2 separate regions of the Homo sapiens genome follow, and region 1 is linked to region 2. Evidence: fine-mapped expression QTL. Tissue or cell type: left ventricle. Region 2 holds a variant in brackets; the other region holds the start of a gene. All regions are shown on one strand. Distances are from middle to middle.

Region 1 (10,622 bases), 72 kb after region 2:
AGTTCTGTATAGTCGTGAAACGGATGTCACTCAGTTGCAACAAGTTCTCGAGTAGCCACTCATTGTTTTAGCCAGTTATTTATTCACCATTCACTAAGCACCCACTATGTGCTAGGTCCTAGGATCCAATAAAGTAAAAGGAGGTCAGACTAATGGGGAAGACAGATGCCCTAACACAAAATTGCAGTGTGTGTGGTTTAATACCACGGAATTGCTAACGTTCCTTTTGTTGTTTATTCAATCAATCCTTATACCCTGTATGAACACTTACAGAGTCTCTATAACATACTGGACAACAGGCCCGTTCTCACATTTTCAAGCCAGGGCAGGAAAAGTCATGAAAGCCATCAGCCTGAGTCTGTTCTTCTGACTTCCTCTTTCTTCCCATACCTGACTTCATCTTGCACTGCAAGGGGCCTCCCATGTATGTGTCTGGGCATCCCAGCCTATGTGTACAAATTTTGAAACACCTCCCGCCAGAACCTCTTAACATCAGGAAGAGGCTTCTGTGCAGCCTAGAAGCAACTTTTGGCCTCTTTGAGTAGGGAGTGCTGGGATCCAGGACCCAGAGAGTGGTACAAAAAGGGAGGGAATGGGCTTTGGGTGGGCACTGCCCTCTGGCTCTATTCACTCTTTCCCCTGTGGCTGCAGACAGGGCAGAGGAAGGCCAGAGGGCCTCAGAGTATGGTCCTCAATGCAGCCACTTGGCATCACCTGGAAACTCATTAGAAATGCAGAATCACAGGCCCCACTGCAGACTTTGTGAGAGTCAGGTCTGCTTTTTTTTTTTTTTTGAGATGGACTCTTGCTCTGTCACCCAAGCTGGAGTGCAGTGGCGTGATCTCAGCTCATTGCAACTTCTGCCTCCCGGGTTCAAGCAATTCTCCTTCCTCAGCCTCCTGAGTAGCTGGGGTTACAGGTGCACGCCACCACGCCCGGTCAATTTTTGTATTTTTAGTAGAGATGAGGTTTCACCATGTTGGCCAGGCTGGTCTCAAACTCTTGACCTCAGGCGATCCGCCCGCTTCGGCCTCCCAAAGTGCTGGGATTACAGACGTGAGAGCCACTGTGCCCGGCCAGATCTGCATTTTAACAAGATTCCCAGGTATTTCATGGCCTTTTGAGAAACACTCTCTAAGGGCCCTAGCTTAAGCCCCTCTTTTGGTAAATGAAGAGACTGAGGCTGCCCGAAACACAGGGCAGGAAGAGGGGCCTGGCCTGGGGCTGGGTTGCCCAGGTCTGAGAGTGTCCTTCTAGGCACCTTGCTATTCTCTAGGGTAAACATGTGCCACAGCAAATTTCAGAGAAAACACCTTTCGAGTAACTCAGATTGAGAGGGGCCTGGAGTAAGAGATTTACAACAAGCGATCCAAGGAAGAGAATTCCATGAAGTCATGGGCAAGGTAATTAAAGGAAAATTAAATTAAAGTGTTTTTTTCTGAATTAAAGGAGAGTGAAAACAAGTCATTGCACAAGCAAACTTGAGGGAGGGTTGAGGAACTCTTGTTTTTCATTTTGTTTCTGAGGCCAATGCAAATGAGCTGGAGTAGACTCTTCCATAGTCCAGTGAACTGCCCTTTTTTGTTTTTGTTTTTGTTTTCTGCATTCCTTTAGCCTTCCTCCTTTTTCCTCAGTATATTTTAGTTCCCAAACCTTTCTGATCCATGTGGCCCTTCACCTCCCTGCTTTTGGTTTTCTCAAATCATTCACTCAGCTCCAAAGAATATAAAAAAGATAAGTCAACAGAACAATTTTTTTCTTTTTTATTTTTTTTGAGACACGGCATCACTGTTCACCCAAGCTGGAGCGCAGTGGTGCCACCGCTGCACACTGCAGCTTCCACCTCTTGGGTTCAAGTGATCCTGCCACCTCAGCTACCCCAGTAGCTGGGCCTACAGACATGTGCCGCCATGCCCAGCTAATTATATTTTTATTAGTAGAGATAGGGTCTCACCATGTTGCCCAGGCTGGTCTTGAACTCCTGAGCTCAAGGGATCCTCCCTCCTCGCCCTCCCAAAGTGCTGGGATTATAGGCATGAGCCACCATGTCTGGCCAGAACAAAGTTTAAAAATATGGTCAGCAAATATGTCCTAAGAATATTAAATGCATCGGCTGGGCGCAGTGGCTCACGCCTGTAATCCCAGCACTTTGGGAAGCTGAGGTGGGCGGATCACCTGAGGTCAGAAGTTCGAGACCAGCCTGGCCAACATGGTGAAACCCCATCTCTACTAAAAATACAAAAATTAGCCGGGCATGGTGGTGGGTGCCTGTAGTCCCAGTTACTTGGGAGGCTGAGGCAGGAGAATTGCTTGAACCCAGGAAATGGGGGTTGCAGTGAGCCGAGATCATGCCATTGCACTCCAGCCTGGGCAACAGAGTGAGACTCCGTCTCAAACAAAAGGAAAAGAAAAGAAAAAAAGAGTTGCATTTCGATTTTATAAGTTCCCTTCAGCCAGCTACAGTTATCTACATGTTGCCAGTTGTGTTTCAGTTCTGCCTAGCCCATCTTCTCATCCCTATTGCTCACCTATCTTTTCTTTTTCCTCCTACCCTCCCTCTTTTCTTTCCCTTTCTTTCTGCCTTTCTCTCCTCTCTTTCTTTCTTGCTGGTGTTTATTAAAGCATAGTCCAGACATCATGTCAATTAACTCACTTCCTACAGAGTTTCCTTGAGGCAGGGCCACAAGAGAATGTATGTAGGCTGGGGAAATGATCTCTTATGATTATGTTCTTGACCAAAATAAGGAATTTGTGTTACTGAGATAAGAAACAATAAAGAATTTCCAAAACCTCTTCATAATACCCCAGATATTGTGGACTTTATTTTCTATCTCTATGTCTTCCCCCTAGAGTCTTTCAGGGGTGTCTATGAGAACTTTTTCATCTTCCTTTACTATTAAACTAGTAACAGAATAACAAAAACTTTGGATGTTTATATATCTAAAAAGAGGTGAATATTCTCTTTCTGTTGGTGAAAAGGATTCTCAGGGCATCAGTTTTGAAGTTAAAATTTGACAATGGAAAGTTTGCAGAGATCTTCTATGACAAGAAACCAAACATATCACTGCCTCCCCCCAACCCCTCGCCCAGGCAAACTCCTGAAGCTGATTGTTGTAATGGTTTTAAAGGTGCTTAGGATGAGGACCTAGATCTGAAGCATGGTGCACAGTTGTTTACTGTTCACACAAGTCAGATCTACGAAGGATCAAGTAATTTGGAGGTTTGGTTACTTTCCATTAGTAAACATCATCCAACTAAATTTGGGTAAAATGCCCTCTAAATAAGTCAAGTAGACAGGAGCTTTGAATGAGGGAATTAATTATAGCTGGTGTCTCCAGGAAAAAGAATCCCACTGTGGCATGGAGAATGTAATTAATGGGAGGTAAGTGCCAACAAATCACTCCTTAAAATATTAATGCTATCAAAGAACAGCTGGATAATGAGAGAAACTTGACCCTTGGGGGACCAGCAAAGGTTGCTGCTGCAGCAGAACTTTATGCAGTTATGACGTAATGAAATTCCTCTAAATTTTAACAAAAACTAATATTAAAAGGTGTGGTTCTGGGAAAGTTATTAGCAGTAAACATGTCATAATTTTTATCATCTGATTATAATCACTATATCTCATTTTTGCTGTGTTTCTAAGTGACATTTTCCTGTAATTGCTCAGGATATATATACAATTGAAACAACACTCCTAAAAAACAACTAGAGTTAAAAAAAAGATTAAGTCTGGCAAGACCTTTTTTTTGTAAATAAAAAACCCAATATCTAAGAAATTTCTGCAAAACAATTTCCCATATGCTTAAACTATTTAACTAAAAAACTGTTTCATTGTTTGTTATTGAAAGCTCCAACTTAATTTGTTTTTACTTAATAGCTTCGTATTGTCCTAAGAAATATGTAACTCTAAGAGAGCAATAAAGTTAAATATTTACACGGTCCCACTTAACGTGTGAAATGGACATGTATTTTCAGCAGCCACATAACTAAATGCTAATCCCAATACCTAAAATTAGAAATCAGAAGTAATTATTTAATTGGAATATACTTTAACTTAGATAAAAAAAAAAAAAAAAGAAATCGTTTTAATAGGAGATTTTTAAAAAAGTTTCTCCGGAATCGACTCGGTTCATCAGGAAGCTGCGAACGTGATAAATGCGTTTGACCGCGCACCTTGTGTCGCTGGAGCTGAGAACACTTTGTTCCTTTTGTTTCACTCAACTTGCCGACATCTAACTCAGGGACACGGGTATGCAGCTTGTTTGACAAATAAGCCGAGATACACCGAACATATTCACACATACCAATAGACGATGATTGGAAGTTCAGGATGCAGTCAAAATAAATGCTTGCGTTTGGCCCAGGTTTCACATAACACCAGTTTCATAAGGCACTTAGGCCGCTAACGGAGCAGTGCCCCTGAAAATAGCCCACAGGGGACACATCATTTAAATAAATGTGTTTCTTTCCCTGAACAGAAGTTCAGTTCTGCTCAATTATCATTAATTTTGCTCCTTTATTTCCTTTGCGGGCGTGAACGGAGAAGTCGTGCTCTTTGAGGTTTTGCGAGCTGGCCTTGGCTGGCAGAGGTGACCGGCAATCCTTCAGCCGGCGGAAAAAGTGCGAGTGTGTGTGTGTGTGTGCTTGTGAAAATGTGCCGTTCCTCCCAGAAAAAGTGGAAACGTAGGTGGAAAGCTCAGCACATGTTGGCGACACCTAAAAACCATGTTCTCGGTCCTGAACCTTTAGAAGCGGTATCCCAGGAACGAGTCTGAGTCTGTGCAACAGGGCACAGATGATTCGACAAACTTCAATGACTGCACCGCATTCATGCATTATATCCATTGAAAAGTAAATCCAGCGTCTCCACTCGCGCGCCCACGTGCGTGGATAAACGCGGGAATTCGGCAGCCCTCAACGTCACTCTGCAGAGATTTCCGGGCTGTGAGAGAGTTGGGGTGTGCGGCGGGGGAGGGGAGGGTCTGATATCTTCAGGTTGAGAGTCAAGTCCTGGGGGAGCGGCATGGGCGGGGGTGGCCGGGGGGAGGCGGAGGATGGAGCGCGAACCAGAAAGCGCAGAGGACCCTCGGCCCGCGCCGCACCCGCTGTGATTAGCTCCAGAGGCGCGATCCGGGAGGGCGGACTCTTTCTTAACCCTCATTGTCTCCTCCTCCCTCTTCCTTTTTAAAAGACGCCTTGCGGGCAGAGCTGTCAGCAACCCCGCGGCCGTTTGTACTTGGCCGCGGCGGAGCTGACTCCTGCTCCTGTGACAGATAGGGGCTGGGGCTGAGCGGCCGCCTGTCTGGGGTACTCGCACGTGGGGAACAAATTCTTTTCCTCCGGCTCCTCTCGGGACCCGGCGATCGCCACAGGTTGGGACTCTGTGCGGCGCTGGAGTTGGCAGCCCCGGGCGCTATGGCTCCCTTGAGGAGTGGGGAGGGAGGTGGCCGGGGGGTTGGCGCGCCCCTCGCGCGGGGAGCGCTATGAGCCGGGCGAAGGGCGGCAGCGACAGCCCCAGCAACTGCCTCTGCCGGCGCCTCCCGCAGGCCCTCGCCAACTCGCCCCGCGCACCATGCTGACTCCCGGCCTGCGGAACTCGTAGTGCAGCCCCTGTCGCCTCCCCGGCCCCTGCTATCCCACGCAGGACTGGCTTCGGCCGCCGGGGCCAGCAGCTTGCGACGTGTCCCTGGGGAGGCGGAATCGCTGTGCGCCCTGAGCCCGGGCTCAGCCCTTCGCTTTCCAGCTGCGTCCTGCTCCCGGCCGCCCAGGGAGCCCAGTGGCGATGAGGGCACTGCTGGCGCTTTGCCTTCTCCTTGGCTGGCTGCGCTGGGGCCCGGCGGGCGCCCAGCAGTCCGGAGAGTACTGCCACGGCTGGGTGGACGTGCAGGGCAACTACCACGAGGGCTTCCAGTGCCCAGAGGACTTCGACACGCTGGACGCTACCATCTGCTGCGGCTCCTGCGCGCTCCGCTACTGTTGCGCCGCGGCCGACGCCAGGCTGGAGCAGGGCGGCTGCACCAACGACCGCCGCGAACTGGAGCACCCAGGCATCACTGCGCGTAAGTGCGGGGCCCTCGGGGACATATCCCCGCCCGCCTAACGGCGGCGGCTGCATGTGTGCGCGGGAGGATGCACAGACCCAGGCAGGTCTATGCGCCTTCCTGGGTCTGTGCGCCAGGGGGACGCGGCCGGGTGGGGGAATCAAGGGATGAGTGGGTGGTCGCGTTTCAGATCATGGTCCTCTATTCATTTGCAGTCCCGCTTCCCGCCACTTGCGGTCTCTGCGGGTCGGCCCGCAGGGAAAGTTTGCCAGGGACAGTGAGGAGCGCGGGGCTTGTGCCTGGTAGCCGGGGGGAAGACAGCTGGAGCTCCCGGGAGAAGGGTAGTGCGGGTAAAGCCAGGGTAGACTTGGGTTTTGGTGGAGGGGCCGAGGGTGTCCCATTGCTCGCCCTTGTCACTTCGGGAGCTTCGGGAAGTGCCGAATGCAGGGAATCGCGACTCTTGTCGCGCGCTCATTTGCAGCCCTTCAGGGCTAAGAAACCCCAGTCACTTTTTTTTTCTGTCTTAATGATAGCGTTTCTAAGCCACGGCCCCGTTCTGCAGACTTCCTTTCAATTCTCTGCATCGAATTACCCTCTCCGGCCCACCCCCTATTGTCACGCCTTTCAGAAATGCCCAGGTCTTCGAGGTGGAGATTTAGAAACAAGGGTCGAAGGGGCTTCCCCGCCCCCTATTCTCACTTCGGAAAACACGGGTCAAATTTCCGCTGACTTCAGAGCGGAATAAATCACGACCCCAGCAGAGAAAATTTACACCTTGAAAAAAAGTTTTCCACCTGAATCGGAACATCAGGGAAACGCTTTAGAGCTTGAGGCGAGGGTTTTATGGCCAGGGAAACCGGAGAAGCGGGCGGAGCTGAGAGCGGGTGACACCCCAGGACTCCAGAGAGCCGAGGTCTGGAGCCCGCAAGAGAAGGTCGCCGGGAAAGGGAAGAGAGGCTGGAGAGATCATTAAGGGTTCCCCAACGGCCCCTCCCCGCAAACTGATAACCCAGAGGACAGGGGAGTCTGCCCTCCATTAGTGCTCCACTAGAGGGTGAATGTTGGGGGTCAACATTTCCAATCTAGAGGATTCTGGAAGTAGTTCTGGAGAAAAGATGCTCAGCGGAAAGTAGGGAAATCTAGGCCCTCCTGGCCTGTTAGAAAAATATAGACTCTTCCCCACGGCTTCACTCGCTCACCCTGGGGGACCCAGCTGCCCTCTGGGAGTAAGTGCAATTGCCCAGTCTGCAGCACGGGCTTCCTCTGCGCTCCCTACTCGGCTCGGATGCCAGAGGACAGCAGAAGGGAGAGGCAGTCTCCACACTCACTGAGTCTGGGATCAGGCAAACCCTGATGGACCTTGGCTCTGTCACTTGCCGGCGGTGTAACTTGGGCAAGTTACTTAACTGCTCTGGATACCTCTTCTCAGTTCTAAAGTGGGCATATTGCTCTCAAAGGAGTTAAGTTGTTGGTGACGTGAGAGTGTATGAATGCTGGAGCGCAGGGCTCAGTAAATGGTAGTTACTTACCTTTGCCTTGCCTTGCACGCTGGTGCTAGTAAACAAGGGAGAATGGGAGGGACACAGAAGAGCTTACGCCTAGTAGCCCACAAATAATTGATAGTTACCTGTCCCTCACTAGCTCTGTCTGTGGGAATGCGCAAACTTCTCTGATGTATTTCCACATCTGGAAAATGGAGCTTATCATGTCCATCTCACAGGGTCTCCAAGAGACTTTAATCAGATAATGAATAAGAAAGAGCCAGGCACACAGTAGGGACTTAGTCAATGCAGGCTTTCTTTCTTCTACCTGTAAGCTGGAGGCTGCGTCTTAGCACGGCTCTATCAGGGGAGAGACCTGGAGAACTGCCCAAGGGGATGCCTCCGGGCTTGGGAATTTTATGTCTGCCTTGTAGAGAGAGAAGGAAATTGGAGTTTGCTCTGTTTGAGGGATGCTTTTATAGAAAGTCTGGGCCGTGGACACCAAGAATTGCCTGGTGATCTATCTAAAGTTCAGTCTGACTTCCCAGGCTTGGATGGGAATTGAGAGGCACGGCAGCTGGAGTGGGTATTCCAAATCTTTCCTGGAAAGAAGCAGCCAGAGCTGGCAATTTGTGGTGTATGGTAGGAGACACAGTCGATTGGGGCCCTCTGTGAATTTCTTTATACTGTTCTTTCTGGAGTCTCATAAAATCCTGGGTCTGTGTGTAGAGGGGAATCTCATTTAATAGGCCTGGCTCCCTTTGCTTAGACTGGAGATTATTGAATGGGAGATGGATTGCCAGCCTAAGAGAGGGGACAAGTCTCTTACTGCTCACCGTGATCAAACTACTAAAACCTGCATTTAAACCTAGAATTATTTTAACCCCTAAAACTCACCCTTTCCCTCTAGTGCCTGAACAGGAGAACAGATTCCGTTTTTTTTTTCTGACTTCCAGATGTGCAATATGATAGTTAATTGCTAACAGAGGCTACGGTATCCGTTTGCTTCCTCCCTGCTAGGAGTAGCGAGAATATTCCATCATCACGGTTTGCATTGCATTTTGGAGGTTACCATTAACAAGCTCTGAAAAACTGAGCTGACAGCAGTGATAGTAACTGAGTCTCCCACCTCTCAACCCTCAGCTGCCCAAGCAGAGTTCAGAATCTGGGAGATCCTCATCTGAGCATCTGTTTATGTCTGTTTTTGCCTTTTAGAGCCTGTCTACGTCCCCTTTCTCATCGTCGGCTCCATCTTCATTGCGTTCATCATCCTGGGCTCTGTAGTGGCTATTTATTGTTGCACCTGTTTGAGACCCAAGGAGCCCTCGCAGCAGCCAATCCGCTTCTCACTCCGCAGCTATCAGACAGAGACCCTGCCCATGATCCTGACCTCCACCAGCCCCAGGGCACCCTCCCGGCAGTCCAGCACAGCCACGAGCTCCAGCTCCACAGGCGGCTCCATCCGCAGGTTCTCCTTTGCCAGGGCTGAGCCGGGCTGCCTGGTGCCCTCACCGCCCCCGCCATACACCACCAGCCACTCAATCCACCTGGCTCAGCCATCTGGTTTCCTGGTGTCACCCCAGTATTTCGCTTACCCCCTCCAGCAGGAGCCCCCACTGCCTGGGAAGAGCTGTCCAGACTTCAGTTCCAGTTGACACGCCCAGGCCATGAATCCACAACTCAGTCAGATGGCAGACAGGTGGAGCCCTGCTCCCATTGCCACATGCAATTCTGAGAAAATTTCCCTTGTAACTGATCAGTGTCATGGAGGAGCATGCTAGGAAAACACAGCACCTTCTAATTTGAAAGTTCCTGTCTCCAATCACAGAAAGGCTAAACCAGAGAACTGTTTTCTGGTTTTGCAAACATGTGATCATTACATTTCAATCTATGCTACTTTTATTCAAAATATGCAGCAGTTTGACTTTAAAGTTGCAAACTGGCTAAAAACGTTTTACTGGACATTCAGCTATATTGCTTAGAAAAGGGCTACATGTTTCTTTTTCATATAAGTTGTTCATTGAGTTATGATAGGAATATATTCATAAATAAGCAAAGAAAAATACCTAATTGTAATTATCAAAGGTTCACTTAAAAAATTAACTATTAGGTAAACTTAAGGGGGCAGTGAAAAATCTATTTATGATTTCGGGAGTAACCTAACCATGAATAATATTAGCATAATGAGAACATTTACTTTTTAAATAAATAACTAAATTTTGTTTACAATATGAGTTTTTCCAGAATACAAGGTTTCAATAATCACATGAGGAGTTTAAAGTTTTAAATATATACTCAGACATTCATTGTAACACAGAGTGTATGTAAAATCATTTCCCCCACTCACTGGAGGGAGTATTTATTGCAGACTTTTTGTTCAGCAACATTTAGTGTTTCAGTGAAAGTTGGACAGTTGGGGCTTAAAACATTTATTTGTAAAATGAGCTATGTTCAAATGTAAATATTTGTAATTTAATGTATTTACCACATTGACTGTACTAATTATTTAGTAGTCATACTGTAATTTTTATGTTAATAATAACTGGAGTTCAAAGTCTAGCTATTGGTATAATCATCTAATATTATATATATCTCCAGTGCCCCTGAATTTTATGTTTGATGACTATATATTTGGGCATATATCTTGTTGGATTAGAATAAATAAAACACTTTATATTTTCATGAACTCTATTTAAATTTTAATGTGATTCATTTTATCTCTTTAGCGATCCTTCTTTAAAAAAAAGGAAATGTTTTTAACACATACTTCATATTTTAAAATTAAAAAAAAATTCCATATCAGGGCTCGTGAAAGCAGCAAAGGAAGTGAATTTTTATGGAGGTCTCAGTCTACAGCCCTCCGATGTGTTTGGCCTGTAGAGAATTCATCATTAGGACGTTTCTCATAAGAATCTGGATTTCTGGCTTCTCATGACATAGAGGACGTGGCACCAGGGGTCCTGCACTGCCTTGGGGTCAGGTCAATCCTCTTCAGACAGGACACCTGCCATTTGCCAGCCTCCTGCCTGGTCTCCCCACCTGGCCCATCTATTTTTGCTATGCTACCTACCTGGCCCCTGCAGGTGTGGTTTGAAAG
Region 2 (10,622 bases):
AGCAACATTTTTCGATTACCTACTCCACCCTGACTCATTCCGATTACCTGCTCATTCTCCACCCTGACTCATTCCAATTTCCTGCTCTGCCATAACCAGTTTTCCTGCCAAACCACTCACCCCATCACTCTCTTTAAATCAGCCAATTGGAATTAGTTTGTCTGTGCGGTCTAACCCTAGCCAATAGGGGAATGACACAGCAGCAGGGGCCATGTGAGTCAGGGATAAGAACCCCTTCCCCTACCTTGTCCAAGTGCATGCTTGCCCTTGCTGTATCTGAAAGGGCACACCCTTCTATAGAAGTACATTGCCTTGCTGAGAATTAAAAAGAAAATTTTATATTTGAGTGCTATTTCTTTTTTTTGCTTTTCTTTTCTTTTGCATTTTTTTTTTTTTGAGATGGAGTCTCGCTCTGTCGCCCAGGCTGGAGTGCAGTGGCACGATCTCGGCTCACTGCAAGCTCCGCCTCCAGGATTCACGCCATTCTCCTGCCTCAGCCTTCTGAGTAGCTGGGACTACAGGTGCCCGCCACCACGCCTGGCTAATTTTTTGTATTTTTAGTAGAGACAGGGTTTCACTGTGTTAGCCAGGATGGTCTCGATCTCCTGACGTCTTGATCCACCCGCCTTGGCCTCCCAAAGTGCTGGGGTTACAGGCGTGAGCCACTGCACAGGGCCTTTGAGTGCTATTTCTAATGCAGCACCGAAACTTTATTTATAACAGTGTGCAGTGGTGTCTCCTTGTTGTTTTAATGTTTCAGTTCCCTAATGACATATGCCATTGAACATCTTTTCATTTGCTTAGGTGCCACTTCTGCTCCAGTTTTAACGGCTTAGTTGATGCTTTCTGCAGGAAAGCTCTCTCCCCCATTGTGTCAGATAGCCTTTGCTGTGTAATAGATGACTTCAAAACTTGGTAGCTGAAAATAGCAATCATATATCTGTGGGTCACGTGGAGTTCAGCTGATTAGGCAGGGTTGCGCTGGTTGGCCCAGCTTTGGGCTTGTGGGTCTCCTGGGTCTGCTGGGTCTGCTAGGTGACTCTGTTCCATAGGCCTCCAACCTTCTTTAAGCGTATCTGCCATCATATGTTCTCACGACAAAGGCAGAGGCACAACAGGGTGAGTGGAAACATGACATTTCTTAAAGTCTGGACTCACTGAGACATACCTGCAATTAGTTACAGTAAGTCACAGGGCCAACTCCAAATTCAAGGGGCAGTATGAGGCCATAGCAAGGATGTGGATGCATGATGGGGACGAGAGAAGAATTAAGACCAACAAGTCAATCCACCACAGTGCACTACTTTGATCATAACTTTCCTCTAACATGCAAATGTCCTTACCCCCAACCCAGGGTCCCAAAGGGCTTGATTGGATCTGCAGGATGTCATGGAGACCTGTAGACTAAAATGGCAAGTCGTTTGCACCTTAAATACCCAACACTCAGAGGCAGAACAGGAAGGAAATAACCAAAATAAAAACTTCCATCTCACATTCTCCTATTTCTTTTCACATGCCACTGGTCACAGCAAGTCACATGGCCAAAACTAAAGCCAAGGGATACTCATGATGAGGCCATGACACAGTAGGGATACAGAATTGGGGACAATACTTTACCCCAGTATAAACAGAAATGGAAGGATGGTTGTTCTTCCATTTATATCATCTGCCTTGACCACCACTTCTGAAACGGGCTTTAGAAAAATGCCCTTTTTTTCATCTGAGCAAGTTTCTCAGAATGCTTTCAGCCTGGAAAAAGCTGGGGGCTCAGAGGTCTTTTTACATTTCAAAGAGCCACAGTCCTTTATATTCAAGGCCAGAAGTATTTTTGTCAATAATACTTTCGAAAAAACTTTCTGAGTTTTACAAATTAAAAACAAGGAATTTTAAAAGTGGCAAGAAAACACATTTTTTTTTGTTGCCCTAGAAAGGTGAGCTAAAGGAACAAATTTTTCTTAATGACTATCTAAAAAAACAATTTTGAAGATGTGGTCAAAAAGATTGAATAGGAATGTATCCCATACATATTTCCTTATAGATAGTTTTACGGATAAGTAATTCAAGATTTGGACCAAAATATATATAAACTAATGTATAACAAATATTAGCTTGGTAGTAGTGTATTGAAATTGATATTTTAATTTCCCCAAATCTTTGTGAGGATGGCAGATTAAACAGGGTGTTTTTCAGTGAAAATATAATTTGTATATTTAGTGGTTAATGCATAACTTTTGAGAAAGTCTTTTTCAAAGACTTGTACATTGAGAAAGTGAATGATTATGATGTCTGAGTTCAACCTTTATGCAAGTCTGATGGTTTCTAATTGTTCGTATTTTAAAAAATTGTAATAGGATTTATTTGAGTTTTAAATTGATGGAACTTTTAAAATTAAAGATGATAAATGCTTATTCTGTGATTTTAGCATTTTCCTAAGAAGAGGTTCAAAGAACTGAGTGATGTAGACGAGACCAAATTCCTTCCATTTTCATTTACTTACATATAAGGACACAATTTCTCAGCACAAACAAGAAAACAGAAGGAATAAAATTTGGGGAAAATCCTTTATGAGTTTTTTTTGTCTTTATTTTATTTTAAGTTCTGGGGTACATGTGCAGGATGTGCAGATTTGTTACATAGGTAAATGTGAGCCATAGTCACCTAGGTGTTAAGCCGGGTAGGCATTAGCTATTTTTCCTGATGCCATCATGAGTTTTAACGTATTTTATTCTAGTCTACCCATGTGTCAAAATTCATTTGGGATATACCTCTCTGTGTGTCTGTCACTCCATAGTTGCTATTAATTGGGGTATAACAGGTTGTCGTGGGACTATGCCTTTAAGTTTTCTAGGTACCTGGTTGCACAGCTGGAAGGCTTTCCTAGACCAGGGCTACTCAAAGACGTAACATCAGCATCACCTGGGAGCCAGTTCAAAGTACAAGCTCTTGGGCCTTTTCCTGTAACTGTGGAATCGGAATCTCTGGAGGTGGTGCTTGGGTATCTGTGTTAACAAGCCTCTGGATGATTCTGAAGCACGCAAAAGTTTGAGAAATGACAGGGTACTATCTTATTTCTCCTGGAGTCTGGTCTTTAACCTGGGGACTTGGCTTAACTGGCAGTGCCCTGGGTTGGTTGTTTCCAAGCTGTATCTTAATGGCCACACCTTGACTTGGTCTTTGTCTCTGCACTGTATTTTATTTGGGAGTCTTTTACTGGCTCGAAGGGCTGGGGATAAAAAACAGTTCTATTTTCCAACCCAGCTAGTTTGGACTCTGTGTATTCCCTCTAAATTCTGCTTGCAAGCTAACCAGTTCTCCTCTAAGCTATACTATATCATATGTGATGAAGTCTTCCAATTGTAACCTTCTGCCTGGCAATCTTCTTGCTCAAGTTCATAGGTTCATTAGGCACATTTTCTATCTTTCAGGTTAGCTCAGGTGACAATTTTACCAGATATTTTGTCACTACATAACATAGGTCACAATTTTCCTGCCTCCTATAACTGTTTCCTTTCTTCAGCCTCTATCTGCCTCCTAGGCCCAAAACCAATACCACATATTTTAGGATTTTGCTGTGGTACCAATTTCTGTAAACGTTTGATATTGCTGAATAATAAACCACTCCAAAACTTGTGGCTTAAAACAATAATTACTTATGACTGCTCACAGGTCCATGGGTTGACTGGGGTTCTGCTGAAAGGCTGGGTGGCTCTGCTCCAGGACATGGTGGCTGCAGTGCCACTGCAGGCCCGGGTGGCTCCACTCCTTAGAGCAGTGGGCAAGCCAGGGCATGTTCTCATTGCCATGGTAAAGGTGCAAGAAGACAAGTGGAAATATGTGATGCTTCTGAAGTCCTAGGCTCAGAACTGGCCTCCTCTCGCTTCTGCCCACGTGTCACTGGCCATAGCATGTCACATAATCAAGCCCAAAGCCATGATGAAGCCATGACAAAGGTATAAATGCAGGCAAGTGTAAAGAATTAGGAACAATACTTTAATCTGGAATCCTCCCCAACATAAAAATAGAGTCTCTTCTACGTGTTATCATACATTTTTAAACGTACACTCCCAGAACATTTCTGTCATTGTCTCAGAAAAGCAGACAATTGTGCCTCCAGAACCTAGACGGTGCCTGAGGCACAGTAGATATTCAATAAATACCTGCTGAACAAGTGACTGACTGCATAAGTGAATGAATGCATTCCTGATGGATAGTTTGCCAAGTTAGATCTGTAGAGACCAAGAATTAAGGGATGATTTGGCTGACAAAAACAAGAAATGGGGAAAGGATTCCCTATTTAATAAATGGTGCTGGGGAAACTGGCTGGCCATATGTAGAAAGCTGAAACTGGATCCCTTCCTTACACCTGATACAAAAATTAAGTCAGGATGGATTAAAGACTTAAATGTTAGACCTAAAACCATAAAAACCCTAGAAGAAAACCTAGGCAATACCATTCAGGACATAGGCATGGGCAAGGACTTCATGTCTAAAACACCAAAAGCAATAGCAACAACAGCCAAAATTGACAAATGGGATCTAATAAAACTAAAGAGCTTCTGCACAGCAAAAGAAACTACCATCAGAGTGAACAGGCAACCTACAGAATGGGAGAAAATTTTTGCCATCTATCCATCTGACAAAGGGCTAATATCCAGAATCTACAAATAACTTAAACAAATTTACAAGAAAAAAACAACCCCATCAAAAAGTGGGCAAAGGATATGAGCAGACACTTCTCAAAAGAAGACATTTATGCAGCCAAGAGACACGTGAAAAAATGCTCACTACTGGTCATTAGAGAAATGCAAATCAAAACCACAATGAGATACCATCTCACACCAGTTAGAATGGCGATCATTAAAAAGTCAGGAAACAACAGGTGCTGGAGAGGATGTGGAGAAATAGGAATGCTTTTACACTGTTGGTGGGAGTGTAAACTAGTTCAACCATTGTGGAAGATAGTGTGGCGATTCCTCAAGGATCTAGAACTAGAAATACCATTTGACCCAGCCATCCCATTACTGGGTATATACCCATAGGATTATAAATCATGCTACTCTAAAGACACATGCACACGTATGTTTACTGCAGCACTATTCACAACAGCAAAAACTTGGAACCAACCCAAATGTCCAACAATGATAGACTGGATTAAGAAAATGTAGCACACATACACCATGGAATACTATGCAACCATAAAAAAGGATGAGTTCATGTCCCTTTGCAGGGACATGGATGAAGCTGGAAACCATCATTCTGAGCAAACTATCACAAGGACAGAAAACGAAACACCGCATGTTCTCACTCATAGATGGGAATTGAACAGTGAGAACACTTGGACATGG[T/G]GGGGAGCATCACACACAGGGGCCTGTCATGGGCTCGGGGGCAGGGGGAGGGATAGCATTAGGAGAAATACCTAATGTAAATGACGAGTTAATGGGTGCAGGAAACAAACATGGCACATGTATACCTATGTAACAAACCTGCACGTTGTGCACATGTACCCTAGAACTTAAAGTATAATTAAAAAAATAAGTTAAAGCAATAAACAGTATTCAAGTATACTAAAAAAAAAAAAGGAATGGTTTGGAATCTTGTCTGGACGTTTAATTCAAACCTTCAAGCTTTTCATCAGTATGTCTTCTTAGGAAAATAAAAGCTTACCTTTGTGTTTGGACTTCATAGGAGCAAAGCAATGCTTAGCATTTGGAAGACAACATAAACTAAAAAAGAGTAATAAAGGAAAAAAAATGGAACCAAAGGGAAATTGCCGAGAAGGAAGAGCTGATGAAATACCTATGGGGGATTTCATGCTACTTTATTTTTCTCAAACTCTTTCTTTGAAGGGATGAGTGAGGGAGTTCTAAGTGGCCGTCCCATGGGCGCCCAGCCCACCACTGCATGTGTTTTGTAATCAGAGCCAAGAATCAAGTGGAGAGAAGGTAGCACTGTAGTAAAACCTCCCTGCGCAATCTTGTTGGCAGGCTGTGTGACAACCTCAGTGAAGTGCATGGGACGGTCTGATGTTGGCTGACCTTGTTCACACCTTTCTTCTGTCTGTGCTCATGGTCTGGCTGTTGCTGCACATGACAATGGCAATATTTCTCCCCTTCAGAACTCGCTTCTCTGCTCTACTTTTCCAGAATTTTATTTTTACAAATATGTTGCAGTGCTTGGGACTAAAAGGAGAGAGAAATACAAGAAAGGGAGGAGGGAGGGAGGGAGGGAGGGACGGAAGGAAGGAAGGAAAGTTAGGACAAAGAAACGAAGGAAGGATAAAGGAAGGACAAAGCAAGGAGGAAAAATGAAGGAAGGACGGAAAGAAGGAAAGAAGGATGAAGAAAGAATGGAAGGAAGGAAGGACAGAGGAAGGAAGGAGGAAGGAGGGAATGTTGAAGGAAAGAAGGAAGGGAGGAAGGAAGAAGGAAGGAAGGAGGAACAAGGGAAGGAAGGAGGGATGGAAGGAAGGATGAATGAAGGAAGGAAGAAAGGGAAAGGGAAAGAAAGGGAAAGAAAGAAAGGAAAGAAGAAAGGAAGGAAGAAAGAAAGAAAAAGAGAAAGAAAGAAAGAAACAAAGAAAGAAGAAAGAAAGAATCTGGAGAAGGGCTCTGGGAGACCTCGGCATTATGGGAGTAGTAACTTGCCCTGTTTTTTCTTCTGTGCATAGGCTGCTCAGAGGTCATACGCAAATCTTGGGCCTGGTGTGGTGGCTCATGCCTGTAATCCCAGCACTTTGGGAGGCAGAGGCAGGCGGATCACCTGAAGTCAGGAGTTCGAGACCAGCCTGGCCAACATGGTGCTCCGTCTCTACTAAAAATACAAAAATCAGCTTGGCGTGGTGGCGTGCACCTGTAATCCCAGTTACTTGGGAGACTGAGGCAGGAGAATCACTTGAACCCGGGAGGCGGAGATTGCAGTGAGCCGAGATCATGCCACCGCACTCCAGCCTGGGTGACAGAATGAGACTCCGTCTCAAAAAATAAATAAAAACAAAACAAATCTGGGGCCATGCCTGAGAAGATTCCATCTGGGCACTTGTGGCTGGTGTCAAACTCATCTTAAAACAAGCCTTTGCCTCGAGCCCTATGCCTATTCTCAAGAATAGCTGGCTCCCTTTTCCTGCCTGGGTTTCAGTGCTGTTGGAACCAGCTCAGGACCCACAGACTCTAAACTCCACAGCAGAGCAGTTTTTGAGCCTGGTGAGGTGGGAGGGTAATGAGAAGTTGTTAATCTAAGGCAGTGACCTTTCCCTGCAAGTGTGGAAATGCTCATCGGAGGACTCCTCCTGCCTGGGATAAGGCCTGTCAGCAGGACAGCAAGCAGATGCATGGAGGAGGAGACGGGCTTCGGTGAAAGGCCATGCCCGCAGCCTTCCCAGAGGCCCTTACAGATCATGGCTCTCAGGCAGCCCAGGGAACCTCAGGCTCAAAGGCTATCAGGGTTTCAGTCTCCTCAGTTTTCCCTTGAAATAGGATGGCCATTGTGGGGCTTAGAATGAGGGGATGTTTGGAATGAAACCCTTTTAGAACACACCACCAGGGCTGAGATGTGTGTTAACTGCTTGGCCCATAGAAAAGGTAGGCTTCGCCTGGGCTGCATTTCAGGAGGCCTGAGAACCTCCGGATACAGCCTCTGCCTCAGCGGGTGCCAAGTTCTAGATTAAGTTTCTGCCTTTTGGGACTGTAGGACTGAAGAGAGTTCTTGACCACAGATGATTGACACACTCAGAGAGTAAAAAATATCCACACTGCCAGAGCAGCTAGTTGCCAGCTTTACGCAATTTTATTTAACCAACCAGCACTAGCTATGAGACAGACCCTTTTCTAAGTGTTTTATACATTTTAACTCCTATTGTATCAACCTCCTGTGCTATCTATCCCATTGTATAGATAAGGAAGCTGAGGCACAGAGAGGTTGAGTAACTTGGCCCAGGTAACGCAGCCTGGAAGAGGTGCTACCAGGCAATCTAGTGTTCTAATCTCATTCTAAGTCTTTTCTAATCATCACACTCTGCTGTCCCTCCATGTTTACCACTGGATAGAATATGGAGTGAAGACATAGAAAGTCCAACAGAAGTCCTTCTGTGGCTCTGGCTTTCAGAGCTGCAACTTTTGGTGTCATCTGACAGATGCACAGAGCATTACAAAAGCAGCCACAGCTTGAGCACTGAAGGCTTGCTTTTTGGAGGCTCAGCACACTCTAAGTCCTCCTGCTGAGTAAAAGGGTGCCAGGCACAGTCTAATTTGGTCACACTTTGGGGGAGCAAATACCTAAGCACTTTGGAGCTGGTGGATTTATCTGCAGGGATTGCAGGGATGCCTGGTGTGGGGATTTGCACAAACCCAAAACACGAACCCCCAGATGGCAAATACATGCTTAATGCTCATTAAAGAGATGGGCTGCTTGAAGGAATTCCTCCATTTCTTGCAAAAGGCAACTCGTATGATGGAAAAAACACAAGTTTTGGAGTCAGAGACTCAGCTGTGTGACCTTGGGTAAGTAATTTATCTCTCCAAGCCTGGTTTCCTTGTCTGCAGAATGGAGTGGATAATACCTTCTCACAGGGTGTTTATTTTTTATTTTTTTATTGAGACGGAGTTTAGTTTTGCTCTTGTTGCCAAGACTGGAGTGCAATGGCGTGATCTCAGCTCACTGCAACCTCTGCCTCCTGGGTTCAAGAGAATCTCCTGCCTCAGCCTCCTGAGTAGCTGGGATTACAGGCAGCCACCACCATGCCCAGCTAATTTTTTTTGTATTTTTGGTAGAGATGGGGTTTCACCATGCTGGCCAGGCTCTTCTTGAACTCTTGACCTCAGGTGATCCACCCGCCTCGGCCTCCCTAAGTGCTGGAATTACAGGTGTGAGCCACCACACCCAGCCCTTATAGGGTGTTTATAGAGGCTGAAGGAGATAATATACAGCTAATCTGGATGGGTCAAACCATTGACTAAGAGAAGGGACATTCCCAGAGGATGCACCATATGGAGGTTAGGAATCAGGAGGTGTGCTCTGGGATGGGCACATTCCCTTGAGAGCTGAAGATGAGCTCCCTGGCTGAGTGGTGCAGCTGAAAGTTCAGGGACTTAGGAGTCAGTCAGCTCTGGGTTCAATTCTTACCTCTATCCCTTATGGGTGACCTTGGAGAATCACCTAAGCTTTCTCAATTCAGCTTTTTCACTAATAAAATTGGAATTTTGACGCACGTCTCTTAGGACTGTCAACATTTGATGTGCTAATGAATGTAGAGAGTGTTAAAATAAAGCTAGCTTTCTCTAACCTTATAGGCTATAGCTTTATGAGTCAGCTAGCAGTCATGATATTCATCTCCCAAGGTCTGCAACAGATAAACATCTATCCCAGTGTTCACTGGACCCTTTATTGCTATTATTTTTAACTATAAACCTTGTTAAATCACTTATAGTTACACAAGGAGGGAAGGGAATGACAGTGACTGGACCCCATTGGAGAATCACTCTAGTAGCCAAACAGTGGGGGAGCTTTTCCAGTTTCCCCTTTGTTAACGTCATTCCTACATATTGACATGTACTTAACCTTTGTAATGTGACTTGGCAAGGCTAGGTTTTGAGGAGGACAGAGTTTTCTTCCAGGAAAGTCTCTCTTCCCTTCTCTCCCATCTTTCTCTCTGTAAAATCACCTCTTGACAACACCCACCAGTTTTGACTCAATGGTGGGCCACTTTTATTCAAAGAATACAAGGATCTCTAGTGGGTCCCTGAATGAGTTTTAAATGGGGTGTATGACACCCCTGAAATGGTGTTACATTTCCTCAGTTAGGGGGTCCACACAGTCACAAGGCTCCACGACCCTCCCTCCCACACAAAGGTTAAGAAACATTGTTCTGAGAGAAGAACGATGCAGAAATGCTACTCCATTTGGGGCCTAAGCACAATTTATTTCCGCAAAAGGATGGGAGGCAGATTTCCTTGGAACTTTTCCCGCTTTCCCTAACACAGAAGTTGTAGCAGTAAAAAAGATGTAAATCTTTTGTGCAGTTTCTTTCCCTAAGTATTTATCTTTGCTTTCTGGGGAGGAAGTCCTGTGTCTTTAGCTCCTCTGTGTCACTGAACCCCCATCTCTGGACCTGTCCACAGAGCAGGTAAACTTGCCTTTTCTAGAAGACCTTTGTCCTTGAAACCCTTAACTTGTTGATGGATGTTGTCATTAAAAGTCCGCAGCTGAGCAGAAGCCCTCCTGGACTCTGAGTTATGGAGTCTCCAAGCCTCTGTGAGCTGGTGACTGGTTAGGTGGCGCTGGGTGACCCCATGAACTTCCCTTACTACTGCAAACAGCCTTGCCCAACATGCACGAGCACCAGATGTCAGAAACCTAGTTGTGCCATTTAGTTTCTTCTTGTTTAGTTTCTAGAGGGTCCTAATTTGTGGCTTTTAAAGTAATTTGTCCCAAAACAAGCACCGTAGACTGATCGACTCTCTTGGGTATTTGTTTCCCATAAATCCAGCTCTCCTTAGATGAGCTTCAACTTGGATTGGAAAGAGAATTTGTTTAGTTATGCTGGGCTGTAGGCACTAAATTGGGCCGTATTGTCACTTCTCTTTGGTAATATAAACAAGCCCACAGACTGCTCACTCTCGTCAGTGACT

Alleles and levels. Alleles are on the strand shown, and positions count from the first base shown. SD is a standard deviation of normalised expression in the study named.
For the expression in left ventricle of the gene that starts at base 5,217 in region 1, T is the low allele of the variant in region 2 and G is the other (small effect, 0.22 SD a copy in GTEx).

Evidence for each region. PIP is the estimated chance that this variant, and not a neighbour inherited with it, causes the effect.
Region 1: SHISA3 starts here. The variant in region 2 is fine-mapped to the expression of SHISA3 in left ventricle (GTEx, PIP 0.96).

Annotation. Positions count from the first base shown.
Region 1 is chr4:42,392,272-42,402,893 of GRCh38, forward strand. It overlaps SHISA3 (shisa family member 3), which reads left to right and starts at 5,217. Exons shown (of 2, transcript NM_001080505.3): 1 at 5,217-6,062; 2 at 8,741-10,216. The coding sequence starts at 5,786. The coding sequence ends at 9,180. RefSeq lists silencers at 4,961-5,040, 6,681-6,730 and an enhancer at 5,265-6,154.
Region 2 is chr4:42,320,245-42,330,866 of GRCh38, forward strand. The region is part of intron 1 of LOC105374428 (a long non-coding RNA gene); the gene reads right to left. Among named protein-coding and RNA genes, the nearest start is that of SHISA3, 72 kb to the right of the region's middle. RefSeq lists an enhancer at 1,033-1,082. The variant T/G (reference allele first, on the strand shown) is at 5,346.